Linked DNA regions of Homo sapiens: region 1 is linked to region 2. Evidence: fine-mapped expression QTL. A gene starts in region 2. The other region holds a variant in brackets. All regions are shown on one strand. Distances are between the middles of the regions. Region 1 holds the start of LOC105378135 (a long non-coding RNA gene). Region 2 holds the start of KIF25 (kinesin family member 25).

Region 1 (15,989 bases), 50 kb after region 2:
CAAACTTGAGCTGCGTCCAATTCCCTGCAGCAGGTGGTGGGAACTAATAGCAGACACCACCCATGCTCAGGTTCAGCAGGGCTGGGACTGGACCCAGAGTGTGCGTTTCTGCAAGGATGCGGCTCCGGGGACCACACCTGGAGAGCCACGGGTCTGGGGCCGGAACATGAGACTGTAGTCCCATCAAAACCTGGTCTCAGTGGGTTGACACTGGAAAGGCCATTTCTCACTCATATTGAAGGCCAGTGTGGCTGAACATTCCCCATCCTTCTTGCCACCGTGGCACTTGAAACATTTGGCCTCCAAGGTTGCTCAGGCAAGGGAAGGAGAGGTGACGGGGAGGTGCTGACAATAGCCCCTGGCCAGCCCAGAGTGGGCCACAGCTGGGCACACGGCCTTGTACCGCAGGGGCTGGAAAGGCACAGGCGTGTGATGTTTAGGGAACACCAACAATCTCTACCAAAAACGCTCCCGATACAGGGGCGGTGTGGCTGCCAGTGGTGGTGGGAATAAGACCGGATTTCATGTCCTTTAAAAAAAATTGTGTATACTTTCTATGTTTTGCACAGTGAATAAATGTTATTTTGCTTTTTTAAAAAACCTAAGAAGTTTGTTTAGGAATAACACACTACAAAGACATTTGCATTAAAATTAAGAGCCCTTTTGTTAGGATTTGTGTGGAAGATTATCGAACAGATTGTAGAATTTATTTCTAAAAGGGCTCATAGATTTTCTGAGTGGGATTTTAATTAACATGATTACCAAGTCTTCCTAAGAAGCATTATTTGATTTCCTCTGGGCCAATTAGGCATTAGTTCAACCTTCCACAGTGAAGAAAGCTGCTTTCTAACTTGTGTTTTCCCCCAGAGAAGCCACTATCCCCTGGACCTCTGCGGAAATCCCACTTCTTACTGGGTGGGAGGTGTGGGCAGGAGGGTGCAGTTCAGAAGCTTCTCGGCTCTGACTGAGGCAAAGCACAGCCTCATGGCTTCATGCAACTGTTTTCCTCCTCGTCGCTCCTTGGTCCCTTGCAGCAGACCAAGCCTGCAGTGCCACCCTCCCCAGGGAGCAAACAGAGGCAGGAAGGGCAGGAAGGAGCCGCAGAGCTTCTCAAGGGGCCTTGGCTCCACAGCTGGTTCCTGGGAACCCCGCAGGGCATGCGGAGCAGGTGCAGGCTCGACTACAGCTCGTGGACTCGGCCGGCAGCGAGTGCGTTGGTGAGCAGGGGCAGGCATTTCCCTGGGGGGTGGGTGCTGCAGAAGCCTATGATCTGATGGAGCTGGATGTGCAACCAGGCAGCCCGGGAAGCTCTGGGCGAGCCAGGCATTTCCCCCTCCACAGGTGAGTTCCAAATCCCGTTACATTCTCAGGGATTGGTTCTCTTACCCCGGCAACCCGAGAGTCGTGTTCCTCACACGGGCCCTCTGGGAACAGAAAACCTGAGTTCCCAGCAGGAGCTCGCTTTGAGCTGTGAGCAGAGCCATGAAAGACACTCACTCTCATGCCTGTCCCGTCCATGGCCTCCCCTCTACCTGCCTGAGAGCCGCTCCTCCCAAGGAGCCGGTTTTGCTTTTCCTGCCTCCTTTCTTGGTGCAAACGGTGATGGTGCGTGGCGGTCCTGTCCAGGTGTGTCTGGAGTGACCGGGTTGGCCCTGAGGGAGATGGCGTGCATCAGCCGCAGCCTTGCGGCCCTGGCAGGCGTCCTGGGGGCTTTGTTGGAGCACCGTGGCCATGCCCCGTACCGGAACAGCAGGCTCACCCACCTCCTTCAGGACTGCCTCGGTAACCGTTTTCCCCAAAATGCCCCAGGATGGGGGACCACGTACCCCAGGACATGTGCACACACTTCTGGCCTGCACGTCCTCGAGGGCCACCCATGCACCCCCTGCACCTCCTGTGTCCTCGCTGTGGCTAGCTGGCACTCCCACGGCACGGTGGTCATTCTCCTGCGCCGTCTCACCTTGGCCTGATTGTGTGCTTGTTCGGTCTGTGTGTGACTTGCCTCCTGGTTGGGGCTCAGTTTCTCAAGGGTGGCAGCCCTGGCCTTTCTCTTCACCAGGGGTCCGCCAGAGCAGCTGAGGGCTCTCTAGGCTGCTGCTGCATGTGTGGCCTGGGTCCCTCCGGCTGTGTAGACCTGCTTAGGCCCCAAGTTCCTTGGGTCTTTTGGGGGCAGGTGCCAGAAGCCTGGACGCAACAGATTAAGCACCAGTGCCAGGTGGGGCACAGGCGGCCCCTGTGTGGAGTCATCCAGCTGTGGCTGGATCTGGGCTTTGCGGTTTTTGGGGAGCTCAGTTAGTGCCCCCTCCCCCGACTCAGACTCCAGACTGGTTGAAAGGGAGGACCCGAGGAAGCATTGCGGCTCTTCCTGACTCAGGGTGCAGGCAGAGTCCCCCAGAGGTGGCCCTGGGCCCTGTAGGCCGTGTCCTGAGAAACGGCCACTGCAGGACGGCAGGGGCACATGGCCACCACAGTCGGGGGGCTCCTCCTTCCTGGGAGGGCCACCCTGGGAGGTGGTGGAGGGGCCGCTGGTGCTCGGGACTCGGGGAGGCTGGAATGTTCCAGACACTCTCCCTGTCTCTCATTGTGGGGTATTTCCCCCTCTCATGGCAAATTGGCTTCCTCCACACGGTGAATAACAGGGCTGTTCACAGGAGCATATTTTTGGATTCTGCCTTTAAGAGAGAGACCACCTGGTACTCTTGGATTCCAAAGTTCGCAGCCCCAACAGAGAGACAGGGCGACCTGGGTCAGGGGCACAGCCCACCCGTGATCTCAGGGGCGGCACCGTGGGGCACACAGTACCTGAGAGCCAGCAGGTCCCTCATGGAGCCCTGGCCTTGGCCTCTGGGGTCTGCACTTTTCCTCCCCCTTAGCTCTCCCTTCCTTCTCCACTGTTTTTGGTTTTCATCTGTAATTCTTAACCCTCGTTACGGGTCCTGAAAAACAGGAAGAGACAGCATTCCTCAGGAGGAGAAGTCCTGGGCACACGGCCCCTGCCCCAGGGGGGCCTGAGGGAGCCACAGGGCCATGGGCCGTGAGCAGCAGGTGTGGGCATGAGGGAGATCTAGAAAGAACAGCCCCAGGGGGCTGAGCGTCCCTCAGGGTCATGTGCAGACTCAACCTAGGGCTGACTTCATACCTCCCAATTCCCGGGACACAGGAGTGTGAGTAGAAGGCCTGCAGCTTCCCCAGGTGAGGGGCGCTAGTGACCGGCTGCTGACCCTCCCGGACCCAGGTGAGGGGTGCTAGTGACCGGCTGCTGACCCTTCCAGAGGGTGAGGGGTGCTAGTGACCGGCTGCTGACCCTCCCGGAGGGTGAGGGGTGCTAGTGACCGGCTGCTGACCCTCCCGGACCCAGGTGAGGGATGCTAGTGACCGGCTGCTGACCCTCCCGGAGGGTGAGGGGTGCTAGTGACCGGCTGCTGACCCTCCCGGACCCAGGTGAGGGACGCTAGTGACCGGCTGCTGACCCTCCCGGACCCGGGTGAGGGGTGCTAGTGACCGGCTGCTGACCCTCCGGGACCTGGGTGAGGGGTGCTAGTGACCGGCTGCTGACCCTCCCGGACCCAGGTGAGGGACGCTAGTGACTGGCTGCTGACCCTCCCTGACCGGGGTGAGGGGTGCTAGTGACCGGCTGCTGACCCTCCCGGAGGGTGAGGGGTGCTAGTGACCGGCTGCTGACCCTCCCGGACCCGGGTGAGGGGCGCTAGTGACCGGCTGCTGACCCTCCTGGACCCCCGTCCCAGGAACCTGCCAGACGTGGCCACTTTCCCGCTGGGGCGCCGGGCGGCCCTCTCTGCAGCCGCCCATCTCGGGCCCTGGTTGCTGGCATGTTGGCACTTTCAGATGCTGCTCTTCTTTCCAGCTTGCATGTTGTTTTTCTATTTTAAAGGAGGCGATGCGAAGTTACTGGTGATTCTCTGCATTTCTCCCAGCCAGAGGCACCTGGCACAGACGTTGCAGGGCCTGGGTTTCGGGATCCGAGCTCGGCAAGTCCAGCGAGGCCCTGCCCGAAAGAAGCCGCCCAGCTCCCAAACGGAGGGGAAGAGGAGGCCGGATTGAATGCATTAACAAGTTTTTCTCCTAAAACTGTGTTTCTTGTCCTTGCTTTATAATGCATATGTGCTTAGAAATAAACAGGTTTCACGTGGACTCAATAAACCTGGCTTTATTCCAAAGCACCCTCATGAATGTGGATGGGACCTCCAACTCCTGCCAGACCATCAGGCAGGGCAGGCTTCACAGAGGAGCTCCTTGCAGTGCGGCGGCCACCAGGTGTCACAGCAGGCACTCGCTGTCCTCATCAGACTCTCCCCAGAGGCCACCCTGGGCCCTGAAGGCCCTGCCCCGGGAAACTCGGGAGCCGGCAGAAGTAGCTGTGGGCAGGAGGGCAGGGGGCGTGAGTGCCCCACAGTGGGAGCTGGTCAGCCTGGGCCCAGTGCAGATCCCACCCGTGAGCTGGGGAGGTGCTGCTGGGCACGTACGGCCCCAGAGCCACCAGGCCTCACACAGAGCTGCCACCTCCGCCTCCTCGAGTTCGTGCTTTTCCTTTCCCCCCAGGCTCCCTCTTTCTTCACCACTGTTTTTGGTTGTCCACCACACTCCGCATGAGGAGCTGTGCCAGGCAGGGAGGGGGCGTCTGGGGCCAGCCTCACGAACCTGTCGTCTCATTTGACACAAACGCGGCCCCCAGGATTCCTCACCACAGGCTCCAGGACCAGATGGACTCTGGTTTCCATGGTGGCTCTGCCACCTCCCAGCTCTGCATCCCTGGACGGTTTGCTTGGCCTCTAAAGCCTGGCTTCCTCCTCGGCAAAGCCAGGTGAAACCAGAGGGTTGGGAGCCTTAAAGGAGACAAGGAGCAGCTCTGGAGACTGGCCTGTGACTTCCCCTGCCGTGGGGCTGAACTGGCACGTTTAAGCCCCACCCCACCACAGGGCTCCTCTCCGCCTCACAAGGGGATGCATGGTGACAGCTGCCCACCGCGTCCTCTGCTGGAAGGGTGCCCCCTGGGGCTGCCCCCATTTCCACCGGGCCCGCAGTGACAGATGTACCCTCTCGGACCCAGCAGATCCAAGAGCAGGGTCCCAGGAGGAACGCATGTGCGGAGGAATGGGGGGTCACAAGCACAGACCAAGAATACCCCATTTCTTACCAGCAACCATTTTGGCTCTGAGAATTGGCTGGGAAGCAGGTTTTGGAGAGGAGTCACAGCTGGTAGCTTTCAGATGATTTCAATGCCAGGAAAATGTTTTTTTTTTTTTACTCTATCCTGTTTATGCAAGAGGGAGGTAAAATGTCTTTTCTAGTAGTTAGCACAAACCAAGTAAACCTGTGCCCACATGCGGCTCAGGTGAGGAGCGTGAGCTGTGGTGGTCCTGACTCATGGCGGGCAGAAGGGTAGGAACCCCCTCCCTTCCTGGGAGCCCAGAGCAAGGGGTGGAGACAGGCAGGGGGTGTTCAGAGCCCAGTGTGCTAACGGCCTTTTCCTGTACTCCTTTTCCCAGGGCGGAGCATTCTGCCTCACTGCGAGTGGGGACCTGGCCCAGGCTGCTGGGGTCCAGCTTTTAGTCAGGGTGGCCAGGAGGGCAGGTGCACGGGGCATCATGCGCTGAAGACAGAGATGCTGGGCTTCTCCCTGCCAGGAAAGGACTCAGCCAGTGGGGCTGAAAGCAGAGACATCTGCTTCAACTCATGGTTTTTAATATAATTGGGTAGAGATGATAGACAGTAGATAGGTGAGATGATGGTGAGATGGTAGATGATCAGTCAGTGAACAGATGGCAGATCTGTAGATCCATGGATGATAAACTCATCAGCAGATAGATCAGATTTAATCTCATATATAAAAAATATGATCGTTTCAATGTGTAATCAATATGAAATCAATATAGAGATATTAATGAGATATTCAAGATTCTTTGTCCACACTAAGTCTTCAGAATTGGTGTGTTTCCCACTGACTGACAGCGCCCCTCAGCACAGGCTGGCTGCGAGCTTAGGGGGCCACAGGTGGGCAGCCCACCTAGCCCTGTGCTGAACCCCACAGACAAATGCCTCCATTTTGTAACACCACCTATTTTTAAGGATCCCTTGATTATCCTAAAGTGAAATTATACATAGATTATATAATCCTAACAGAGCATGCCTTTTTTAAAAAAAAAAAAAGAATCAATATAATGATGTAACTATAATATAATGGAGAAATAGGCCAGATGCGGTGGCTCACACCTGTAATTTCAGCACTGTGGGAGGCCGAGGCGGGCGGATCACTTGAGGTCAGGAGTTTGAGACCAGCCTGGCCCACATGGTGAAACCCCGTCTCTTCTAAAAACACAAAAATTAGCTGAGCATGGTGGCAGCTGTAATCCCAGCTACTCAGGTGGCTGAGGCACGAGAATCACTTGAACCTGGGAGACTGAGGTTGCAGTGAGCCGAGATCGCATCACTGCACTCCAGCCTGGGCGACAGAGCGAGACTCAGTCTCAAATAAATAAATAATAAAAATAAAAATATAATGGAGAAATAAAAAGTTTTTTTCTGTGTATATACACATAAGTATATTTCAATTCGTAAAACTTTCAAAACAACTACATCTGAACACACAGCGAAGTAAATGAGTTTCGGTATAAGAAGGAAGACAATATTCAATTTATGTATATTCGACAATTTAAAAATAAGGGCCAAGTGACTGTATCTGTGTGTGTGTGTGCACGTACATGCATGTAAAATCTCCAGGAATGTGGCCGCTACAAAAAGCAGACAGACACACAGACATGGAATTGTCACAAGTGTCCCATTTGTGACTCACATGTCACCAGCAGTATAGCAATGTGATATAATTTTGTACATGGTGAAAACCTCTTGGTAATGTTACAAAGTTTCAGCTTCTCTTGGTTTACACAACTGTTGCATTCCTGACACATAATGTACATTAAAACTGCAGAAATAATCCTTCCTGATTTTATGGAGAGCAGTGTGAGGTTTCAGGCCTGGATCACCAAATGCAGGATTTCCACCTGTGAATGTCTGACGGGGGCTAAAGCCACGTGGCCCCCGGGACAGTATTTGCTGGGTGGGAGTGTCCTGTGCCTTATGGGGACCTGGCGTCCTTGGTGCCTGTCTGCTCAATGTCACTTGTGTCCCCTCATCATTGTGATGACTTGAATGACCCCACAGGTTCTGAGATGCTCCCTCAGTGCCCAAAATAAAATCAAACTTCTCTTTAGGGTTGGCCCTTAGGCAGGCAGATGCCCCTGGCTCAGGAAGCCCCTCACCGGCTTGCTGAGGTGCGAAGTTCCTTTAGTAGGACAGAGACACCAACGCACAAATGATGGACTCAGGAGGTGGCAGCTCTGGTGAGATGGAAGCTTCTCTGTGGAGCCCGCACTGAACAGCAGTGCCAAGCAACAACTGCCGCCAGGCCCTGCCGTCCTCCTTCTGACCTTGAAGGGCCCGAGCTGCTGCCATAGCGTGACCGAAGGGACAGCCTGGCTGAGCCGCGTGACACTCGACAAGCCTTCTTTGTGTGTTTGATGAAGTTCCTCTCTGAGCAAGGCCGGCGTTGTGATAACCAAGCTGCCTTTGTAGAGGATGCGTGGACGCCTCGCCCCACAGCTGCGTGGGGCCCACAGTGGTGCCCCGAGACGGGCACCGTGTGAAAATGGCAGAGCTTCCCTCTGGGGAAGTGTTGGACCGGCTCTGGCCAGCCTCTACGCGGGATGGCAGAGGCGCGAGTGACTCAGGAACCTGCCAGTCACAGCCTAGAGCAAGGGCGTCTACAGAGACTGGGAGTTGGGGCAGTGGGCGTGGGGGGCGCTTGGGCCCCAGGCACCGGACCCCACTGCCTGCCACCCTCGACGCCCCCACGCTGCAGACTGGAACCCTCTGCCCCATCACAGGGCGTGCAGCTGAGTCCTCGCTTCCCAGGTTTTCGTCTGCCTCTCACTCCCAACTCCTCATTTCCTAGAAGGAAGCCTGGGCCCAGTCTTCACCCTGGTCCACTTGGCCACACCCAGAGTGCCAGGGTTTCAGAGCAAACCAGCCCAGTCTCCAGGGTGTGGGGCTGCAGGCACTCACCCCACCGCTGGCCACCACCAGTGATTTCAGTGGCCCATCACCGTGGTGCTGACACGCTGCCCCTAAGAAGGGAGAGGGAGGGACGGACCCAGGAAACATACAGAAAAAAAACCCAAAACTAGTCAGTGACTAAAACTCAAAGACGTCCCATCAATTAACAGCTCTGCTCTGGGGTTACTATCTTCATGTTCATTAGCTTCTTCCTCTTGGCTCAGGGCCTCTGAAGGTGTTTAGGATCAACCCATTTGAAAAGCAAGGACGCTGAGGCTGTGGAAGTCCACGTACTTACTGACTCGCAGCGCCTGTGAGTGGGCGGGAAGGAGCGTCTGCCCCTCAGTCGTGGTCCGGCTCCTTCTCTCACAGACGTGGACCTTTGGAGGGCAGTCCCAGCGCCACGGAGAAATGCATCTCCAGAAACACTCGTGGCTTCCTCAAACTGAGCACAACCAGACCTCCCCAGCGCTGACCTACGGCACAATTGTTCATGCACGAGAGCCGCCTTATGGGGTGAGTGCGTGACTCTGGTGCGAGGTTTATGTTCCCAGGGCTGACATGTCTGGGAGCTTCACAGCTGGACGAGGCATATTTGGAGGGGCGCCTTGAACCTGGACAGCACCCCCTCCTTGCCTCCCTCAGGCCGTTTGGCCACAGAACCTGTGACATGGGCAGGCTCAGGAGAGGAGAGGAGGAAGGGAAGGAGCCCAGGCCCCGAGGAGGGAAGATTGCCGGGGGCCAGGGTGGGGGTGGGGTGGGGTGGGGGCCCAGGGCCCAGGGCTGGGGCAGCTCTGGGTGCCAAATGCGGTTTCGTCCAGAGGACACTGCAAGGCTGGAATGAAACACCCTGTCCTCTTCAGCTTGTAGCGGGTCAGAGGCCGCTGGTTTTGAAGAGATTTGCCAGTGATCTGTGGGAGGAAACACTCAGCAGAGGTTTAGGTGGCACGTGGAGACTGTGCGGGGAATACAGCCCAAATGGGGAGGACAGAAGACACCACAGCCACCCAGGGTGTGAGAGCTGCGACAGGCGCCTGTTAGAGCGGAACCACAGGGGCCCGGCCCCATCTCGGGGTCCGGGGTGGCTTCCCTGCGGGGGCGGCCTCTGTGCAGAGGCCTGAAGGGTCCACAGTGGCAAAGGGGGAATGACAAAGTGTCTGCCTGTGCCGGACCGAGTGATCTGTACTATAATTACCCTGTGAGGGGCGCACGCTGCCGTCCTAGAGCGTCACAGACACCAGCCCCCGGGCCTGTTGGTACTCGCCGGAGGTCCCTGCGTGCCCAGAGTCCCGCCCTGGCCATCGTTTAGTGTGAGGCAGGAGGGGGCCAGATATGG[G/T]GGGGACGCCTGGCTCCCCCAGATCTCTCTTGCCTGCTCTTTCCTCCGCAGGCTGCCTGTGCCCCTCCCCCGTAGCCAGGAACAGGCCCTGGGGAGTGGTGGGAGGCCGTGCAGTGAGGCTTGCGGCCCTGGATGCTCCCTCAGGACTGTCTGGGACCAGGCTCGTCTCACAATCCGAATTAACTGCAGACCTCACTTCGAGAACAGCCTGGCCCAGCCCTGATACTCGGGGAAAGAGCAGCGGTCGGAGGAGGCAGGAGGAGCGCACGGAGGGCAAGCCGGGGGCCCATGTGTGGCTGGGGCAGCCGTGGCCTCCTCAGCACAGTGTGAGCCCAGCAGCCTTGCCGTGGCCAAGGCCCTGGGCCTGGGAACTTGTAATCCAGTCGCTGACTTTGCTTAGTTAGCAGAAATGGAAGACACCTCATTTGTGGAGACCGAGGTGGTGGAATGTTGACCCTGGGGGTGTTGCTGTGGGAGGCCAGTGAGCTGTTAGCCCAGTGGGCAGGACCTGGGTGACCGACGCCCTGGGGGTCTCATAACTCCCTGGACCTTCTCCTTTCTTGGTGGAGCTTGGCCAAAACCCACGGATATTTTACATCTGTTTCCCTGAAGTGCTAGGGACGTTCTGTAGTTTCAGCCATGCTCCTCGGGCAAGCCCCGGGATGGGGTGGGGGGGGCCAGAACAATGTGGGGTGGGCGTGGCCGGACGCCAGCTGCCCCTCAGCAGGGGCTTCAGCTCCATCACAGCCATGTGGACTGTGGCTCAGCCTGGGTGGACAAGGAGGTGTATACAGTTAGCACAGCCAGAGCAAGCCAGCCCTGCCCACTGAGGTGCACAGAGCACCAATCCGCTGGCCCTCCCTCCCTCTTTCACCTGTTCTGTGCCCATTTATTGGCTGCCTCCTGTACCGGGGTCTTGCTTTGGCACCGAGGAAACTGCAGTCAAGGCCGGAGGCTCCTGCCTTGAAGATCCCAAGACCGGGATGGAGACTGATGAGCCGGATGTGTCCCAGCGTGTAATGCAGGGTGGGCTGAGTGCGCCCCCCGACGTCTGTGTGGGAATCCTCACCAGCAAGGCCATGGTGTTAGGAGGGGGTGCCTGTGGGAGCCGGTGAGGTTGTGAGGATGGAGGCTCACGGGTGGGATTAGTGCCTTTGTAAGGGGGGCCCTGGGAGCTCGCAAGCCCCTTCCGCCCTGAGAAGACGTAGCGGCCAGGGAGGGGGCCTGGACCAGGAATGGAACTGGCCGGCACCTCGATCCTGGACTTCCAGCCTCCAGAATCATGAGGAGTGGGCAGAGTGAGGCCACACGGCCTATGAAGATCTGTTGTAGTGACCAGAGGGAAGACACAGTGCAGTGGACACGCCGGGGCTGGTGTGTGTCCTGCAGCCTCTCTGGGAGCCCAGGGCACCTGCTCCCAGGAATCACATGTGAGAAGCAAAACACAAGGACAGGCTGCGGGGAGGCGGCCCCGGACCCCCACTGGATGCCTCACTTCACACACCTGCCACCGAGGGGGACAGTGCCGGCCTCCCAGACCTGCACCCCAGCCCACAGGTGGGCACTCCACCCATGCACTGTCAGGGCTGCCAAAGCCTCATGCCCTCCCACCACCTTCTGCTGGGCAGCCCCTTCCTCAGAGAACAAAGAGCATTTTGGTTTTTTTTTTGAGACAGGGTCTTGCTGCATCGCCCAGGCTGCAGTGCAGTGGCATGATCTCAGCTCACTGCAGCCTTGACCTCCTGGGCTCAAGTGATTCTCCCACCTCAGCCTCCCGAGTAGCTGGGACCACAGGCGCCACCATGCCCGGCTAATTTTATTTCTATATTTTTTGTAGAGATGGGGTTTTGCCAGGTTGCCCAGGCTGGTCTCAAACTCCTGGTCTCAAGTGATCCGCTCACCTTGGCCTCCCAAAGTGTTGAGATTACAGGTGTGAAGCACCGTGCCTGGCCATAAAGAGCATCCCGGAGGCTCCTGAGGCGCGTCCTCCTCCCAGCCCACCTCCTGCAGAGGCCCCCATTGGAGGCCGGCCTGTTCCCACTGTTACGTGTTCCCATGTCCGCTCAGGAGGGAGCCTGGCCCGCACCCCACAGGGCACACTCCTGCATCTGGCTCTGAGGACATGCTTCTTCCTCTTCTCCCACTGCGCCAGGCCCTGCCGCCGCCCCAACAGCGTGGATGTCCAGGGCTGTGGGCGGACAATGGCCCTGATGTCCAAGGACAGACAACAGAGGGTGCGGCGAACAGGTCCCCACTTGGTGACGGTGACGTCCAGTTCCTGCTGCGTGCACTGGTTTGTGACAGCAGCAGTGGCTGAATGGAGAGAACCACACCCCTGCCAGCGGGAGGCCTGGCTGGTCACCTGAGCACAGATGCCAGGGCAGAGCCAGGAGGGGACTCAGGATGAACACTGCCACCCTGGGGCGGCTGGAGAACCAGGCATGGGCCGGCGGCGAGCCGGGAGGGAGCCCCAGCCTGTGCCCAGTGGCCCGGGGGCCTCATCCGTAGCCAGGGGATGTGAGCAGGGAATGGCAGCCGCTGTGTGACCCAAGGTTCTGAGATCAGAGGAGTCCTCACCCTGGGCCCCGTTTTGAGGCCTGAAACTTCCATGGTTAGATGGTGATGGGGAGCCCTCCTTCAGGGCAAAAGATAAGATTACAAATTCTAAAGTATGAAAATAAATCTAAATACAGAAACATTAAAAAACCACCACATCACAAAGTTTAAAAAGCTGAAAAACACAGTAACACAATATTTGGTGACGGTTTTATTGGTGAGCTGCCTGTGATTAATAAACAATTAACCCGCGCCATTTTCCCCACTGCGTGTTCACCTCTTCACGCGCCTTTGTAGAATACCAGCTTTCTCCCGGCAGGGCTGCCCCGGATTTGTTTTCTAACCTTGGCACCTGGAAGGCAGCCTCCCCATCACAGCTCGCCGCCGTGAGAACGGTCATGGGCCCGGCTGCAGGACCGGCATTGCCTACCACGTCCAGCCTCCCACTGCCAGCTCTGTTTCTCTTCCAGTCCCCACACCTCCCAGGTTGGGAGTACATGTCCGCCTCACCAGGTGACCTCTGGCCCTGGCCATCCTGTCCTGAGACTCCCTGCTGCTCCTACAGGTAGAGACGACATGACTGGGAACCCCGAAACGTCTCCCAGCAGACCGAGCCAAGTGTGTGTCCAGTTCAGCCTCCCCTACGCGGGCCCCACACACCCACAGGGCCCTCAGTGCCCCTCAAGGCGAAAGGAGCGTGACGGATGAACCCTGAGTGGAAGGGGCCGCCTGTCCCAAACACGGACGGCTTTTTCTGCAAGTTTTACAAACTGATAAACCTTTGTGAATGCACTCGCAGGGCCGCAGAGCTCAGCTTTCCCCGTGGCTCTGGCACATTTCCCCCGCCTGGGGAACCCAGAGTCCATGGGCCACGACGGGCTGATGCTCGGCTTGGGAACCACCTCTCCTGTGAGATCCCAGACACACAGGCAGTTGCTGGCTGCCCCGGGCCTCCCAGATGGGCACCTGAGGACCCCGGCCTCCTCCTCCTGCTTGGGGTTCAGCCCAAGAGCAGAGCTTCTCAGGCCGTCAATTACTGCAGATGGAGCAGGCTTTCCTGGAGGAAGGATGAGCTTTGTCTGGAATTCTCCATCTTCCGTGAGGGAGGCTGGGCTGATGGCTGAGGGCCCAGAGGAGTCCATGCTTCAACACAGGCAAGAGGGAACCGGCCACACCCTGCCCAGGGCCACCCTGTCACCACTCCAGACCAACTGCCCCCAGGAGCAGGGTCTGCCGCCTCCCACACCCCACCCAGCAGGGAGAGCTGCGCCCTCAGACCCAGACCCCCGCAGCAGCAATGCAGGTTCCGGGGCCCAGCGAGACCCACAGAAGCAGACGCAGTGGGGGGCTGAGAAACCCAGCCTGAACAAGCTCTCTGGGTCGTTCTTGCGAGTCTGGACCTGCCAGCTTGACCGCTGACCTGGCCCGGGCCACAGGACTGACCACCCCAGCCGGGCTCATGCGAGGCTGTGATGCTGGAGGTCCTTGGCCTGCTCCTTGGGGGTCCACAGGGACTGGGACAGGTGGTTTTCTTTTCCTCTCCACTGACAGGGTAAGACAGGGATTGGGGACTTTACCCTGTGCCCCTCCCCCACCGGCCTGCCTCATGCCACCTGAAGGCCACAAGCCCCCCTGTACACAGCGGCTTCTGCTGTTTGCAGGCCACCCCCAGCCCTGCCCCCCACCCTCCTTCTTAGGAAACATCCCTGTCCCTACCAGTCGGTGTCCATTTTTCTGGAAAATAGCCGTATTGCCTAAAAGACCTCTGATCTCAATCTGTGCAAAAAGAAAGGTTGGCTTCCCCGACTTCCCGCAGCCCCGCTCTCTGCTGCTTTCTGTCTGGGAAGGAGCCCCCTCCCAGGATGGCCTTCTGCTTCCAGCTCCGCTCCTGCCCCTCCAGGTGTGGGTGACGTGGAAGGGGGCTGTGGGGAGGGGCGGTGAGCAAAGCTGAGGCTCAAGCCTTAGGGGAGTCTGCCCCGGCCCCGGCTGGGTGTGTCTGAGCTGGTAGCCCACATGGGCTTCATGTGGCCTGCCTGGCCGTCCCCTCTTGGGCAAGTCTCAGGGCAGCGGGCCTCTAATTGTCCTCTCCACATACCCTGAACACCAGAGATTAGAGTCTTTGGAGCAGCCCTACCCGGTAGTTAACAGGCATCTGGCATAATTCTCCATGTCTGTCCACAAGGCCCAGAGGAAGGACAGAAATAGGAATCCCCAGTGGGGCCAGAGAAGCTTCTCGGGTCAGCCAGGGGCCATGGCTGCCTCGCCTCTGCCAGGACACAAGGCGCCGGGCCAGCTTCACTGATGCTTCCACAAGTTAGGGGTGGGCTGGCCCGGCCTTTGCTGCCCCTGGGGTCTATGGCGTGTGGCGAAGGTGACTGGCAGGGGAAGCCTGGACATGGGGAGTGTGCATGTATGGATGTGTGCATGTGTGTGTGTGCATGCGTGTGCATCTGTGTGCAGATGTGTGCGTGTGTGCATGTATGTGTGTGCATGCATGTGGATGTGTGCATGTGTGCATGTAGGTCTTGGCTCAGACCCTGCTTCATGGTGGACACCACCTGCTGTGTCTCCCCAACACTGGTGTGTACCTTCCCTCATGGTCCATGGGACTGGGCTCTTGCTTCCAAGTTTCTTCAAAGGAAGAAGATAGTCATTGCCCCGGAGCGGGGCAAATCAATCATCTTGTACTAATGGGAATGGCTTTGGGAAGTGCCCACATGCTCACATCTGAGCCAGCACTAGGCGCACCTCCCCTGCCGCACAGGAATTGTGGGCAGTCTTGCCCTCGGCAGCACTGGGGCTTGTGGCCATCTACAGAACGCAGCCTTCTGTGGCCGATGCCCCTGAGTGAGTTACAGCCGGCATCTCACCAGCCCCCCAGGCAGGCTGGTCCTGGTTCAAGCAGGAGGCATCTGCTCGGGTTCTTTATTACACGTGCCTGGGGCACACACACGATTCCCTTTCACAGAAAGGAGAGGGTCCCCCTGGATGGACCCGTCAAAGAGGCGGCCTCAATGCACGCAGCCCTGCACCAGGCCATGGGGCTCAAGCTCATGCTTGTCTCCAGTGAGCTGGAGGGTGGTGTGGCGTGGTCTTCACCACACACAGACAGTGAAGGGGGCAGTGGTGTTCAGGGCACAGGGCTGAACGATTGTGGCCTCTCAGTGCTCTGGGATGGGCCTGAGACTAGCAGGGATGCACGGGCCATTCCTCTAAATGCAGAGGACAGCAGGTTTGCACGTGTGCAGGAGTGTTGTGCAGGGGGAGGAGCCCTGGGGAGACCCTACCCTGGTGGCCTTCCAGAGCCCACAGAACCGAGGTCGCACTACCCGTGGAGCCCACCGGATCAGAGCAGGTGCCATGCACAGCTAGTCCCCCACTCTCCGTCTGTCACCAAAGCTTCGCCCCTCCGCCAGCTGGGCTGCACCAGCCCAACCCCAGCCAGGGCAATGGCTTAAGGAAGCCACCTGTGAGCAGAGTGGGTCCTGAGGCCTCATGGCTGAGATGGGAGCAGAGTCGGCTTCAGCTCCGGGGCAGTGGGGTCTTTGGAAGCCCTGGCTTGGAAGGGAAAGCACAGCCATTGACTGTGGATGGTGGAGGAGGGTCTCTGGCTGGATCTCAGGTGACAGAGCTGGGCTTGCACCACAAGAGGGGCCTCTGTCTGGCAGGCCCAGCGCTTGCAAACAGGAGTTGCAGAGAGGGGTTCAGGTCTGGGAGGAACCTGGGTCCTGCACAGTGATGACTGTGAACTCCGGCTTGGGAGCTCTGGCAGCCTGTGCCCATCAGGACTGTCTCTTGGGGAGCTGACAGTGTGGGAAACTGCAGAGCTGTCTCTCCAGGGTCTGGGCCCAGCTGTGTCACCTTCTCTCCCAGATTAGGATGGGTGACAGGCTGCCTCAGGGGCCAACACCATGGCTCTCTGGACACTTGACAGCCAGACCTTGAACTGGCTCCCTGAGACCCTGAGGGAAAGAGCTCCCGGGTGTATGGCAGACAGGCATGAGGTGCGGGACCTGTTTGTTACCTC
Region 2 (15,989 bases):
TTTGTTTCTGGTGAAATGGTTTAAATTATGCTTGTCAAAAGACATGTAATCTTATGGAAGTAAAAGAAGCCTTCATTGAAACCAGGAAAGCCCCTCGTGTGTTAGATACAAGTTTCCATCACAGGCCCAATCTGGTCTTCTTTAAAAGAGTATACCATCGTTACTATTTTCTTTTTTTAGAAAAAAAAAAAAAAAACACCAGAGTCTCGCTCTGTCGCCCAGGCTGGAGTGCATGGCGCAGTCTTGGCTCACTGCAAGCTCCACCTCCTGGGTTCACACCATTCTCCTACCTCAGCCTCCGGAGTAGCTGGGACTACAGGCGCCCGCCACCACGCCCAGTTAATTTTTTCTATTTTTTGGTAGAGACGGGGTTTCACCGTGTTAGCCAGGATGGTCTCGATCTCCTGACCTCGTGATCCGCCCGCCTCGGCCTCCCAAAGTGCTGGGATTACAGGTGTGAGCCACCGCACCCAGCTTATTTTCTCTTTCTTTTTTTCTTTTCTTTCTTTCTATTTATTTATTTATTTATTTTGAGATGGAGTCTCACTCTGTCACCCAGACTGGAGTGCAACGGCAGGATCTTGGCTCACTGCAACCTCGGCCTCCCCGGTTCAAGTGATTCTCTTGCCTCAGCCTCCTGAGTAGCTGAGACTACAGGTGCCTGCCACCATGTCTGGCTAAGTTTTATATTTTTAGTAGAGGCAGGGTTTCACTGTGTTAGCCAGGATGGTCTCCATCTCCTGAATTTGTGATCCGCCTGCCTCTGCCTCCCAAAGTGCTGGGATTCCAGGCGTGAGCCACCTCGCCTGGCCAAAATTGTTACTATTTTCATAATCAATTGCAGATGTTGTTCACTCTGGGAGTTCTGCTTTCTAATACACACTAAACAGAAGACTAAACCTAAAACCAAAACAAAACATAGGATTGGGATTCTGAGCAAATATCAGAAGGAAAAATACATTTTGTCCATGAAATGAATTATTTCAAATAGCTGTGGTAGCAGTTCAATTTTCTGAGTCAAAATTCTCATTTTAGTTAATCAAATTAAATCATTAAACTAAAATCTTACTTTAGTTAATCAAAGTTCTCAATTTAATTTTAATGTTAAGTGGTAGAAAACATGTTTATACATGTTAGACTAAATAGATCTGGTACAGCATGTCATCAGATGTGAACAGCTCCTGTTAAACTACTAATAATTTCTAGAAAGTTAGAAAAATTGTTATTCCCTATAGTATATTTGGCAATTCTCCAGGGTGAGCTTGTAGGAGGATATTTTTATACCTTTGGTTGAGAACATTGTTTTACCTTTTGTTTTAAACAATGTGACCATATAATTACTACAACAATAAAACATCTGTAAACAGGATTAATCTGTTCTCTATGTTAGTCAGAATTAGAGATATCCCACCCCCTCGTAAGCTGCATTAGTGTATTTAGAATAGATTTATATAAAATTAATTTTCATTCTCTTCCAACTGAATAAAATTAATTGAATAAGTTGTATGTATAACTTTATCTGTACTCCATATAAGAAAAACACTTTAGTTTTGATATTAAAATGTTTATTAATTCGTTATTAAAATGTTTCCCAAACATATGAAAGCCGTCTCCATTTTATAGAAAAGGAGATTTGACTAAAGAAACGAAGAATACTTTAGTTATGCTCCTGTGATTTAAGAGTATCTGATATTAAATATTAAGCAGTAGTGTCCTGGTTCTGTCACATCTTCCCATGGAAGATCCTTGAGATAATTTCATGGGGAGAAGAGGACTTTCCACGCAGGACATCAGTTGCTTTGCTCCCAAAGTTCTCTAAAAGCGTTCATATGTATTGTGCCTGGAATTTTATTATGTACATTTACATGTTAAGTTGTTTTCACCGGCCCACGTTTTCCACCATGTGCTCGTGATAATTGAGCTTCCAGAAGGCAGGTCTGGATAGTAGATTAGGAGGGTGGTCCCCATTTCACAGGCGGTGATGAGAGGCTCTGAGCCTGAGCCAGCATCGTGAGGAAGTCAACAATAGACGGAAACACGGCTCGCGCCCAGCATCGCCCCACCGTGCAGTGAGCGGCCCTTCCTACGGAAATTGGTGAAACACTTGACTTTCTGTTTCTTAAATACTTTAAGGGCATAAAATCACATGTACTGCTTTGAAAGTAGAAATCCCAGATGTATTGAGTCAGAACTTCTGTAAGTGAGCCGAGGCACAGGCAGCATGAAAACAGTCCTGGCGGGCATCGACAGGCCCGGGCCGAAGAACTTCTGCTTTACACCCTTCCAGTTAACAACATATCCCTTATATTAATTGTGTGGGTATGTTATTATTCTATAGAAACATATATAACAAATTCTTATGTAATTATACTGTGATCATTAATCATATAATTTTATGAATCGTGTATGTTCTTATTTTATAGAAACTTAACCAGGATATACAGGCGTTTCATTCTTCTTCTCGGGCGCTCTTAAGAGATTATCAGGATGAGTATCAGGACCGTGTTTCTGAAATAGTGACCGCGGTGCAAAGAACACAGCAGAGTGCCGAGACCCTGCTAGGTAGGAGGGCACCTTTCACCGAAGCCGGGCCAGTCCACACTCGAGAGAAATGTTTGCAGTTTTAAGAAAATGACCGGCTAGAATTTAAGTTTCCATTTCTTCTTCCTTTTAGCTGACACCAAATTCCACAGGTGAGGGCAGGCACTGTGTGACTCGGCCACGCTGGCAGGTGCACTGCTCCCTCCCAGCTCCCACTGCAGCCCTGCTTGCTGGAGGAGCTCCTTGTTCTCCTGGTCACCACAGGGCACTTCCCCGGTCTTGACGGTCACTGCTGAACTGGCACCTGTGTCCACGTTGGGCGTTCTGTGTCAGAGTTTCCTATAATATGACGTGAGATTTTTTTTTTTTTGTCTTATCAGTTCAGTTCTTTCTTCATTTCTAAGAATGCCACAGCATTTTGGCTACTCTTTTGTTATAATGGATTTATTATCTTCAGCTACTGTGCTTGAAGCCTGTGGAAGAGGTTACTTTGGTTCTGCAGTTTTAAACTCATCGTCCAAATTGCACTAGCCGGCCAGGCCCGATGGCTCATGCCTGTAATCCCAGCACCTTGGGAGGCCGAGGCGGGCAGATCACATGAGGCCAGGAGTTTGAGAGCAGCCTGGGCAACAGGGTGAAACCCGTCTGTACTAAAAATACAAAAATTAGCCGGGTGTGGTGGCGCATGCCTTCGATCTCAGCTACTTGGGAGGCTAAGGCAGGAGAATTGCTTGAACCCGGGAGGCAGAGTTTGCAGTGAGCCGAGATCGCACCATTGCACTCCAGCCTGGGCGACAGAGCAAGACTCTGTCTCAAAAAAACAAAAGAACCAAATAGCACCATCCCCACGTTCGTCTCATGCTCACAGCTTCTGCCCAGTGTTCAGTGTGTCCACAGGCCAAAGAGATGATGGTCAAGTTAGGAACTTGGTCAAGGGTTGTGCTGCTGATATTCCAAAATAGGTGTGTGGAAACTTTGGAACCTGTACTGATCTTCTGCGAGGCTACATGATGTTTTATTGAAATCACTGCTGTAGCCTAGTTTTCTTCAGTGCACTCTGCTCAGTAACTCCCCTAAGGCCGTGTTTGTAGGAGTGACGTGTGCATGCCTGTGTTCTTTTTTTGGGGGGCGGGGGGCGGCGGGGGACAGAATCTCACTCTGTCGCCCAGGCTGGAGTGCAGTGGCGCCATCTCAGCTCACTGCAACATCTGCCTCCTGGATTCAAGCTATTCTCCCACCTCAGCCTCCCGAGTAGCTGGGATTATAGGCGCCTGCCACCACGCCTGGCTAATTTTGTATTTTTAGTAGAGATGGGGTTTTACCATGTTGGCCAGGCTGGTCTCGAACTCCTGACCTCGGGTGATCTGCCCGCCTCAGCCTCCCAAAGTGCTGGGATTACAGGCACGAGCCACCACAGCCGGCAACGCCTGTGTTCTTATAAGCCATGTGCTCCAGGGAAAGGGACAATCATGTTATTTTGTGAAAAGCAGTGTACTTAAGCTTTGAAAAGGTGAAACTCAAAGGGAGAAGCAGGGAGCCGCCAAGGCTCTCCCGCAGAGGGAATGCTGACGTGTGAGGAGGCAGGGCCTGCTGAGGCCCTGCCTGTGGGAGCCACGGTGCAGTCCTGCCACACAGAGGGGTCCCCAGGCGGCTTATTTGTGCCCAGGCGTTAGGCTCAGGGGCTCGGGGCCTCCTTACCTGGCTTCCCTGGGGGCGCGACTTCTCCCCTCGAGTTCCATGCTCCTCAAAGATGAGCCTCAGCCACCTCAGGTGCCCAGGCAGCTCCTTTCAGCCGTGCTGACAAGAGGGATAGTGGGGACAGGCTGGTGGCTGGGGCCGGACACACTCAAGGCTCAGATGACCAAGTGACTGGGAGGGTCTCTCTCTTGCTGTGGGGGACCCTTCCCGCTTTCTTACGCCCACATTCAGTCTGGACCCGGTAACGGGTGTTTCTTTCAGAAAGGGAGCGTGCGCAGTTCTGCAAGTCCAGCTTGGTTTCAGGCCTCATGAGAGCTGCATCTGCGCTGAGGGGTCCTTGTCCCTGCAGGTCCTCGGGCCTGGGGTAGAAAGCCCCAGGCTGGGCTGCATCCTTTGGCTAAGTGACATGTGGAGGGGTCCCTGGCTATCATGACGCGTACAGCCGCGAGGCGTCCTCTGCAGCACGACACCGAGCTCCATGTCACACTCACGCTGCCTCCACGGCAATGGCCAGTCTGGGGATTGGGGTGTCCACGCTCGTCCAAGGCCCCCACGCGATGCCCACTCATCGCCACATCACCTGGCACCATCCTGGTAGGACAGAGGCGGGAGTAGAGGCCCAGGCCACTGTAACAATCCACAGCAGCAGAGCTGGGCCCCAGCATCTCCTTCCCTGCCCCACTCCCCCCTCACCAAGGGCTCCCAGGTGCTTTAGGAGCAGAGACCTCCTTGGCTGCCATGCAGACGATGGAGCAGCATTCACGGGCTGATGGCATTTGAGGCTGATGACGGACGGGGTGACTGTGGGGCCAGGTCCCCCAGGCGAGCTCTGTGAGTCCTTGGTCGTGGTGGAGACAGCGCAGCCTGGGTCCAAAGCAGTGAGGAGCACAGGCCACAGCACGCAGCCGGCCCTGGAGGACTCCATTATTTTTAAAAATGTCTCCCATACTTAGAGAAAGGAATTTGACCTGCTGGGCCCCATGGATGTCCTCTCCGGTAAAATGCCTCCGTCCCTTTGTCCTTTCAGCATGCCAGTCAAAGGTGGCGCACCTGGAGCGGGCCTTGCAGGACGTCAGTGCGCGTCACCAGCTGGAGAGGCAGAGAAGGAAGGTCCCGCACAACAGCCTGGTGGTGGGTGTGGGCGTCAGGGGAGACCTGGGGCGGCCCCGGGGAGAGGCCCACGCAGAACGTGCAGAAGCCTCCTCGCCGGAGGGACAGCGGGAGGGACAGCGGGGGGACAACAGGGGGGACAGCGGGGGGGGGACAGCGGGGGTGTGACAGCGGGGGGGACAGCGGGGGGGGACAGCAGGGGTGGACAGAGAGGTGGACAGCAAGGGGGACAGCGGGGCGGCCTGGCCGGAGGGCAGAGGGGCAGAGCTGCGGGGGCTGCGACCTGCGTCCTCTTCACCCAGGAGGCGATGGCAGCTGGAGGACGGGTGAGGGCGCCGCAGGCTGATTTAGGCTTTCGGGGTCACTCTGGCTGCTCGGTCGGGAGGCCACGACGGGGAGCAAAGGGGATGGCTGCAGTGTCACGGGGGCTGGTGGCCTGGGCCACATTGGTGGCGATGCAGGAAGTGGGACCGGCTGCTGTGAGGCACAAGGAAAGAGCTGTAGCGGGCAGTTGGGGGCGGGGGAATCTGCAGAGATGGGGGCGGGGGAATCTGCAGAGATGGGGGCGGGGGAATCTGCAGAGATGGGGGGCGGGGGAATCTGCAGAGATGGGGGGTCGGGGGAATCTGCAGAGATGGGGGGCGGGGGAATCTGCAGAGATGGGGGGTCGGGGGAATCTGCAGAGGTGGGGGCGGGGGAATCTGCAGAGATGGGGGCGGGGGAATCTGCAGAGATGGGGGCGGGGGAATCTGCAGAGATGGGGGGCGGGGGAATCTGCAGAGATGGGGGGCGGGGGAATCTGCAGAGATGGGGGGCGGGGGAATCTGCAGAGATGGGGGGTCGGGGGAATCTGCAGAGATGGGGGGCGGGGGAATCTGCAGAGATGGGGGGCGGGGGAATCTGCAGAGATGGGGACTTGCGCGGGAAAAGCAAGGATTTTGCTGTAACTGGAGATGCCGGTGGAGACTGCCCCTGCCCCTGCCCCTGCCCCTTCCTCACCAGCACCTTCCACCCACGTCTCTCACTGCCCATTAACAAGACCCAGAGGCTCTCGTGCTTTCTTGGTCGAAGGTATGAGACCTGAGATCCCATGAAATTTAATGTAAAGTCTCAGGGTTTGATTTTGCAACACGAGGATGCCAAGGTGGATGATTGAGTGGGTGACCCTCGCTTCTGTGAGGTTTGATTTTGATGGTTGCACTTTGGCCAGTTTCTCCGAATTCCACCTGCCCGAGGCCCACGAAGCCAGTGTTCCTGCGAAGCTTCTCTTCCCTGGCCATGCCGAGAGGTTCTCCAGCTGTTAGATGTGTCAAAGAATAATTCTCATTTTAAGCATCTACTTATGTAGTTCAGTGCTCCAAACATTGATATAAGAGAACATTTATTGAGTGCTTCCTGTGTACCAAGTACTTTTGAAACCATTTGGTGTATTTTCTTATTTAATCTTCACAATAGCACCACCTCTCTGGGTTGCTATAAAGACAAAGGGAGATATCAGTGAAGCACCTGGCACTTCAGAAAGTCTCACTACGCTGCAGCTTTTTTTTTTTTTAATCTGGAGCATGAAAAAGATAATATGAACCTTCCTAAGATGGAGTCAAGTCCCACAAGGAAGAATTGGTTGTGGAAGTTTCTGAGTGTTCCACCTCAAGCCTGGTCTCCTGGTCTAGCTGAGGAGCGTGCAGTGCGCGGCCCATGGAGAATATGCAGGCAGAGGCTGATCCCAGCTTCTGTGGGTTCATAGAGACCAGACGGAGGCTGTAAATCATTGGCCTATGACACCCACTTGGTTTTCAAAATGTAGAAGGAGCTGCTCAGCATGACAGGGTGGATAAACTTGCTGTGGATCCAAGACAAGATTTCAGAATGGATTTGGCAAGTTCTGAGCACATACGGAGAAGATGTGTTGCTCACTGGAAACCAGTGGAGTTTATGAGAATAAAAAGCTTCTAATTTCCTTCCAGTCATTAAATCAAGGAAATATGACAGATACTGAATTTCCAAAATCCCCTCTAAAATGCCTAAAATGTCGAGCCCAGGATGCCATTCAAAGGGATTTTCCTTGGTACTTATTACCAAGGGATACCCCTTTGCCAAGTGAACACATTTGTGAAGTATGAATCCAGAAGTTTAAAATAACTGTTCATGGCCGGGCACGGTGGCTCATGCCTATAATCCCAGAACTTTGGGAGGCCGAGGCGGGCGCATTACCTGAGGTCAGGAGTTCGAGACCAGCTTGGCCAACATGGTAAAAACCCTTCTGTACTAAAAATACAAAAATTAGCTGGGCGTGGTGGTGGGCACCTGTCATCCCAGCTACTCTGGGGGCTGAGGCAGGAGAATCACTTGAACCTGGGAGGCGGAGGTCGCAGTGAGCTGAGATTGCATCACTGCACTCCAGCCTGGGCGACAGAGCAAGACTCTGGCTCAAAAAATAAATAAATAAAATAACTGTTCACTACCCTGCAGGGGTCTTTCGAAGTGGAGACAGGTGCTGCAGATCTCACGGCCGCGTCTCAGGAGCTGGTGCCCGGTGCACGTTCAGTGGGGGATGCTCCGCAGTGCAGGCTCGCGCCCGGGTTGACACGCAGACCTCTTGATCATTGCAGGAGCTGAAACGAAATATCAGAGTTCACTGTCGGATTCGTCCTTTGTTGCCTTTTGATAGTGAATCCGACGATCCAGTTTTGCAGAGCAGGTAACCTGTGTTTGCACGGTGTGTGTATGTCTGTGTGCTCAGGGAAAAGACAGAGGAGTGGCACAATTTTAAATGCCGTCTACTGTCCTGTCCCCGGTCCCAAAGCAGGACATTCTCGAGTTGTGGGTGGGGGCTCTGTTTAAGGATGGCGCTGTCTTGCTGACAGTGGACACTCTGCAGCCCTCTGTAATACGGCCTGCAAAAGGCCAAACTGCCTGAGCAGGCCTCTCGTGCGTGGTAGTGGTTCTGCACCTGAGAGGGCGTCCGTCTTTTCGTGGTTTGCCTCTGCGGGGTCCGACCGAACAGGGACAGGCTTTGAATGGACTTTTCCCTTTATGTCACTATATCAAAAAGGGAGCACCCTGCCTTTATGAACCCCAAAGACCACCCACTCCGCCATGCAGGCAGTCAGTGAGTATTGACTCAACTGATACTTTTGACTTAGAGAAAGTTTTGATGGTATTCATGGATACAGCAAAATTATCTGAAGTTCATTTACTCAAATGCTTACTTGAAAACCATACTCAATATGACTTACTTCCTTCCCCATGAAACAAACCCCCTGGAAATCCCCACTCCCATCCTGACCACACCTGACCCTCCCCACTCCCATCCTGACCACACCTGACCCTCCCCACTCCCATCCTGACCACACCTGACCCTCCCCACTCCCATCCTGACCACACCTGACCCTCCCCACTTCCATCCTGTCTACACCTGACCCTCCCCACTCCCATCCTGACCACACCTGACCCTCCCACTCCCATCCTGACCACACCTGACCCTCCCCACTCCCATCCTGTCTACACCTGACCCTCCCCACTCCCATCCTGTCTACACCTGACCCTCCCCACTCCCATCCTGACCACACCTGACACTCCCCACTCCCATCCTGACCACACCTGCCCCTCCCCACTCCCATCCCGACCACGCCTGACCTTCTCGCCCTCCCTCCATAAACCTGCCCCTCCCCACTCCCATCCTGACCACACCTGCCCCTCCCCACTCCCATCCTGACCACACCTGGCCCTCCCCACTCCCATCCCGACCACGCCTGACCTTCTCACCCTCCCTCCATAAAGCTGCCCTTCCCCACTCCCATCCTGTCTACACCTGACCCTCCCCACTCCCATCCTGTCTACACCTGACCCTCCCCACTCCCATCCTGACCACACTTGACCCTCCCCACTCCCATCCTGTCTATACCTGCCCCTCCCCACTCCCATCCTGACCACACCTGACCCTCCCCACTCCCATTGCCGACCACATCTGACCTTCTCACCCTCCCTCCATAAACCTGCCCCTCCCCACTCCCATCCTGACCACACCTGGCCCTCCCCACTCCCATCCTGACCACACCTGGCCCTCCCCACTCCCATTGCTGACCCTCCCGCCACTCCAAGGTGCTGCGCTTCCCGGCTGTCCCAACGCCATATGGGGTTGGCCGTATGCACCAGTTTGCTAGGGGCACTGGGTCCCACTCCTGACTTTGCTTTGCTCAGGCTGTTTTTCTGGTCTTGGTTTCCTCCACTTAATCTGTCCAAATGAGCTTTCCCTGGAGGGCCTGGCTTGAGCCTCACAGTGTTTGCATCCTGCAGTTTAGCACCTGACTTGAGAAGGTCTTTAGAAAGCACTTGGCCGGTTCTACAGTGTGAAACAAGAAATTCGGATCTTTTGATAGTCATTGAAACTTTTTCTTTTCAAAGTGTTTAGACATGATTGTGCTGGCTCTAGTACTTTCTGCACTTTTTTGACTGGTGGCCACTTGTCACTTGTCAAAGGACTGGAAATTGGGCCTGTCGGATACGTCAGTGTGGCGCGGGACAGGCCAAGTGGCCCTCATTCAAAATGTGTGGGACCAGAAGAAGTGTTTCCGATGTTGAATTGTTTCATATTTTCGAATGTTCGTGTTTTGTATGGACCGGTTCAGCAAGATAATCCAGTGGGCATTTTCTTTCAGCGTCATCTCAGTGCTCAAAACGTTTTGGATTTTGGAGCATTTTGGATTTCAGGTTTTTGGATGAGGGATGCTCAGCCTGTAGTTAATGGCCCCCAGCGGTGATCAGCTTTCCTGAACTTGCCTTTTACATGGCACTTCCAGACGGCTTTTGTTACACACCAGCCTCCCTGCGAGCCTCCCACCATAAGAGGCACATACATGCAAATGAATGCAAATGAAATCCCATCAGAAATGGGGCTCCTCAGCTGCAGTAGCCTCATCTGAGGCGTGGCCTCGGGCAGGTGAGAAGACACCTGAGGCGTGGCCTCGGGCAGGTGAGAAGACACCTGAGGCCGTGGCCTCGGGCAGGTGAGAAGACACCTTCAGGCGTGGCCTCGGGCAGGTGAGAAGACACCTGAGGCGTGGCCTCGGGCAGGTGAGAAGACACCTGAGGCGTGGCCGCGGGCAGGTGAGAAGACACCTTCAGGCGTAGCCTCGGGCAGGTGAGAAAGACACCTGAGGCGTGGCCTTGGGCAGGTGAGAAGACACCTGAGGCATGGCCTCGGGCAGGTGAGAAGACACCTTCAGGCGTAGCCTCGGGCAGGTGAGAAAGACACCTGAGGCGTGGCCTCGGGCAGGTGAGAAGACACCTGAGGCGTGGCCTCGGGCAGGTGAGAAGACACCTGAGGCGTGGCCGCGGGCAGGTGAGAAGACACCTTCAGGCGTAGCCTCAGGCAGGTGAGAAAGACACCTGAGGCGTGGCCTCGGGCAGGTGAGAAGACACCTGAGGCATGGCCTCGGGCAGGTGAGAAGACACCTTCAGGCGTAGCCTCGGGCAGGTGAGAAAGACACCTGAGGCGTGGCCTCGGGCAGGTGAGAAGACACCTGAGGCGTGGCCTCGGGCAGGTGAGAAGACACCTGAGGCGTGGCCTCGGGCAGGGGAGAAGACACCTTCAGGCATAGCCTCGGGCAGGTGAGAAAGACACCTGAGGCATGGCCTCGGGCAGGTGAGAAGACACCTTCAGGCGTAGCCTCGGGCAGGTGAGAAAGACACCTGAGGCGTGGCCTCGGGCAGGTGAGAAGACACCTGAGGCGTGGCCTTGGGCAGGTGAGAAAGACAGGCAAGTTTCCATAGTCCCAGAGGCTTCTTTCTCCTGGATGGTGCGGCTCTGGGCTGTTTGGCTTCTCAGAGCTTCCTAAGAAGCTCCATAAACGTGTGTGTGGACTGGCACATTGTTTGTGTTCATCGGCTTTTGGTTTTGAAACATGTTGCATTTTTTCAGATTCATGATGGCTTGCAGATGCTTGATTTCCTGAAGGGGAGAACCTGATGAGCTTGTCTTCTAGATCAGTGGTCCCCAACCTTTTTGGCATCAGGGACCAGCTTCCTGGAAGACCAGGTTTCCACGAACTGGCGGGCCGGGGCAGGGATGGTTTCAGGATGACTCAACTGCATTTCATTTATTGTGCACTTTATTTCTATTATTATTACACTGTAATATACAACAAAATAATAATACAACTCACCACAATGTAAAATCAGTAGGAGCCTTGAGCTTATTTTCCTGTAACTAGAGGGTCCTATCTAGCAGTGATGGAGACAGTGACAGGTCATCAGGCATCAGAGTCTCATAAGGAGTGTGCAACCTGCATCCCTCACATGCACAGCTCACAGTAGGGTTTGTGCTCCCAAGAGAATCTAATGCTGCTGCTGGTCTGACAGGAGGTGGAGCTCAGGCAGTGATGCCAGTGATAGGGAGCGGCTGTAATTCAGAGAAGCTTTGCTCACTTGCGCACCGCTCACCTCCTGCTGTGCAGCCTGGTTTCTAACAGGCCTCCATGGCCAGGGATTTGGGACCCTTGTTCTGTATCACCACCGCTCTAAACTGCGCATGAAGGAGATATTTAAGCGTTCTTACTGGAGTATGGATGACTCTCCCATGCAATGCAGACAGGGAAGATGAAAACAAGAAATAAAGAACAGGGGTATTGGAGTAAAAAAATCAAGAGAAGACAAAAGGGGGTGGGGAAGAGAAGAAAATAATACATAAAAAGTAAAGAGTAAAAAAAATAAAAAGCATAAGGTCCAAAAGGACGAGTGGAGTTTTAGAAAAGGATGGAAGGGTGGATCCATGCACACAGGAAGAGGAGGAAGAGGAGCCAAGCCAGTGTCCTGGGAGACCAGGACAGAGACAGAGATGATGGCAGAGAAGCAGAGGGGTGTTTTAGAGTGACCAGGACAGAGACAGAGATGATGGCGAAGAAACACAAGGGTGTTTTAGAGGCTGAATGTTAGGAATTCAGAAAGCAATTTCTTCATGATGTGTATTTTCAATGTTGTTTCATTCCCTCAGCTCCATCTCTAGAGAAGCGGCCCATGCTGTTGATGACCTGAGTCTACAAGTTTCCTCACAAATTGTATTCAGAGAGCAGCTTCCTGCTTGGTGGGTGTCCGTAGTCCCCACAGATCCCTACAATGGAGAGCAACTCAGAGACTGAATAAATAGAAAATAATTTATTTTAGGCTTTCTTAGTTAAGAAGAGTTGTTTTTGTTCCTTGATTTCTATTGGAACATGAAATTAAGCATTTGACATGCTTTCCTTGTGGGAAACCAGCTCCTGACCCGTAGTTCTATGTGAGGAAGTTACTTCACTTCCATTTATTTTCCAGCCCAAATGATCAATCAGTGCAAATATGAGCAAGTTCTAAAATTTAGAGCACCAGGAAAAGAGATATAAATATAAAATCAGTGATATCATGGGTGAACTTTGTGATTCTAAACTGGAATCAAGCATGATTTTGTTTCTCCTGAAAGCCTCCTTGCTTTTTAGTTTTATCCACGAAAAGGCCGAGAAGTCAGAAGGAGCAGCCCAACACCCCAGGGGTGTCTGAGTACCAAGCCCACTGCAGGAGAAAAGCTCATTTGACACCTCGCATCTGGGCCAGGAAAGGAAGTGGGTGGGAGGAGCCTGGGGCACTTGGGGAGCTGAACAGCAAGGGAGGCCTCAGAACAGAACGGGGGCTGTCCCAGCACATGGAGCCCACGGCAGGCACTCCCTCAACGCGGGATAGAAGCCTGGGGATTAAGGAGGGACTAAAGCAGATTGAAATATATAATTATATGTACAATCTTGAGTTCATAATAATGAGTTTTTAAAAAGACCTCACATTAATTTTTTGGGTGCTAGAACATCAACTCATTATTCCAAAAAGTGATAGAAAGAGAAAAGGGTTGTGATGTCCTTCCTGTAGGAAACATACTCAGGGCAGATGCATGGTTTTTGAGGGAACAGAAGATTCTAGGTAATAAACTCAACAAATGATAAAACTGGAAAACCATCATTTGAAACCCCCAATGAAATGGTGACTCTAGGCCCTCAGAGGATGCTGGTCAGGGGTTGATGGGATCGTCACGATGAGGGTTCAGGGTTGCCTCAAACCCTCTAAGCACTTTCTCCTGAGTGGACGCTGCTCAGGGGTTGATAGGATCTTCACGACGAGGGTTCAGGGTTGCCTCAAACCCTCTAAGCACTCGCAGCTTCCCTGAAGTTGGGATGCAGAGACATGATGTCCCGAGGTGGTGCAGCAGGTGGGACACAGTGGGACTGATGAAGCACTTTTGCTTCAAAATCAAACCAGCATCTAATCAAGTCTTGGGGACAGTCATTTTAAAGGAGAGAAAACCATCTGCCAAGCCAGAATGCGGACATTTCACAGAACAGACTGCCTGGCTTCTCTAGTAATAACTTTTGTTTTTAAAGGCAGGAGGACACAGTAGAATGAGACGTGTCAGCCTCAGTGTGTCCTGGTTTGGAGCCTGGTGTGCACGAGCCACCTGTCACAGGCGAGCTTGGCGTGCACGAGCCGACTGTCACAGGCAAGCCTGGCATGCACGAGCTGACTGTCACAGGCATTGTTGGGACAGTGGGGGAAGTCCGAATGTGTCCTGGGTATATAGGGGGGCAAACCTTCTCCTCTATCCTCCTAGGGTCCCTGGTGGAGCCTGAGAATGGAATTGGCCTAAGGCAGGTTGACGGGGAAGAGCATCGGATTTGTTGAATGTGGGGTCTACCTGACACAGAGCCCCCCGGAAAATGAAGAGTTGAGGAGTGGCACAGCCTGCACGCTGCCCTGCGGGGTTGGGCAGAGGCCACTGTGGACAAGCAACCAAATGAGATGGGAGACAGAGGGAAGGCGAGGGCTGTGCTAACAGGTCTGTCTGTGCAGAGCTGCTCAGCTTCGACCCTGTATTAGCCAGGGATCTCTAGAGGGACAGAACGAATGGAATAGATACATATGTAGAGGAGAGTTTATTAGGTATTAACTCACACGATCACAAGGTCCCACAACAGCCATCTGCACGCTGAGGAGCAAGGAGAGCCAGTCCGAGATCCAAAGCTGAAGAACTTGGAGTCCGATGTTCGAGGGTAGGAAGCATCCAGCACGGGAGAAGGATGTAGGCTGGGAGGCTAGGCCAGTCTCTCTCTTCACATTTTTCTGCCTGCTTTATATTTGCTGGCGGCTGATTAGACGGTGCCCACCCAGATTAAGGGCGGGTCTGCCTTTCTCACCCCACTGACTCCAATGTTAATTTCCTTTGGCAACAGCCTCACAGCCACACCCAAGATCAATACTTTGTATCCTTTAATCCGCTGATCAAGTTGACGCTCGGTATTAACCATCACAGACCCCATCTACTGACGAGAACATGCTTTGTTCCTGGCCCAGCAAGGGCGGCTCTCATGGGAGGGTCAGGTCCTGCCTTCAGTGCAGGAGGAAGAGGGGAAGCTGGAGTGCTCTGCATGAGCCTCCTGCTTCTCAGGAACCTTTAAGTAAAGATAATCCTGATGCCAAAGTGGCATATTTTGGGGTGACATGTTCTGCCACTCTCCATGTGACATTAATTTTGTAAAGTGTGATGAATGGCATGGTGATTGTATTCTATTTCTTTTTTTTTTTTTTAGCGATGGGGGGGTCTCACTATGTTGCCCAGGCTAGTCTTGAACTCCTGGCTTATGTGATCCTCCTGCTTTGGCCTCCCAAAGTGCTAGGATTGTAGGCGTGAGCCACCACACCGGGCAAATTGTGCTTTAAAAGTGTTCTTATCATTTAAAAATGCAGCCTGTAATACTCAGCAATACAACGATCTGTTGTCTGGTTTTGAATGTACAGTATGCTGAGGAAAGGGAGGTGGGTTTTGCAGGAGTGTCTGTGAAACAAGACTGGCCGGATATTCCACACTTGTGGCACCGGGCGATTGCACCTGAGGACGTCTTGTGCTGTTTCCCCCATTTCTGTGTACGTTACAAAGTCCCCAGTGAGAACAGTTAAAAAAATGCTGGGCCTCTCCTTCATTCAGCTTATTATGGTGATCACAAGATGAATTTAGAAAGCACATGAAATGCTAAACACTTCACTAACATTGATAATTTTGAATTCAGGAAAATCTCAGGTCATGTAGGACACAATGGCCATTTTGAAGATGATTTTGTGTCACGTTGATTACCATATGCGGTTCTACAAGGCCCGTCACCTGAATCAGTCTGATGATGGTTACGTATTGTAAACTTTAGAAACTCTTTTTCAAAAGGTAGTTTTAGTTAACGGACTGATAGCCTTATACTTTTTAAAAAGGCCAAGAAAATTGTTATAGCCATACTTTAAAATTGCTCTTACTATGTCCCCAGAAAGAAAAACTTTTACAATTCTTTATTTTAAAGTATTATTGATTGATTGATTGATTCAGCTTTATTTAGGTAAAATCGACAAAAATTGTATACATTCGACATCTACAACATGATAATTTAATATACAGATGTATATGATTACCATCCATCTTTGGATGACACATGTGGTAATCAGTTTTACAACTGAGCATGGTGGCTCACACTTGTAATCCTAGCACTTTGGGAGGCCAAGGCAGATGGATCACCTGAGGCCAGGAGTTCGACACCAGCCTGGCCAACATGGTGAAACCCTGTCTCTACTAAAAATACAAAAAA

Evidence for each region.
Region 1: its variant is fine-mapped to the expression of KIF25 in nucleus accumbens (GTEx, PIP above 0.99).

Annotation. Positions count from the first base shown.
Region 1 is chr6:168,040,935-168,056,923 of GRCh38, forward strand. It overlaps FRMD1 (FERM domain containing 1), which reads right to left. Exons shown (of 11, transcript NM_024919.6): 11 at 12,161-15,989. It overlaps LOC105378135 (a long non-coding RNA gene), which reads right to left and starts at 5,228. Exons shown (of 3, transcript XR_943283.2): 1 at 5,156-5,228; 2 at 4,704-4,844; 3 at 4,260-4,376. It overlaps KIF25 (kinesin family member 25), which reads left to right. Exons shown (of 13, transcript NM_030615.4): 11 at 1,035-1,217; 12 at 1,627-1,782; 13 at 3,893-4,157. The coding sequence ends at 4,062. RefSeq lists an enhancer at 7,483-7,982. The variant G/T (reference allele first, on the strand shown) is at 9,407.
Region 2 is chr6:167,991,274-168,007,262 of GRCh38, forward strand. It overlaps KIF25 (kinesin family member 25), which reads left to right and starts at 6,398. Exons shown (of 13, transcript NM_030615.4): 1 at 6,398-7,597; 2 at 7,819-8,047; 3 at 11,270-11,386; 4 at 12,341-12,430. KIF25-AS1 (KIF25 antisense RNA 1) reads right to left here and starts at 5,804. Exons shown (of 4, transcript NR_103750.1): 1 at 5,633-5,804; 2 at 4,965-5,328; 3 at 4,240-4,830; 4 at 2,914-3,191. RefSeq lists an enhancer at 15,851-15,989.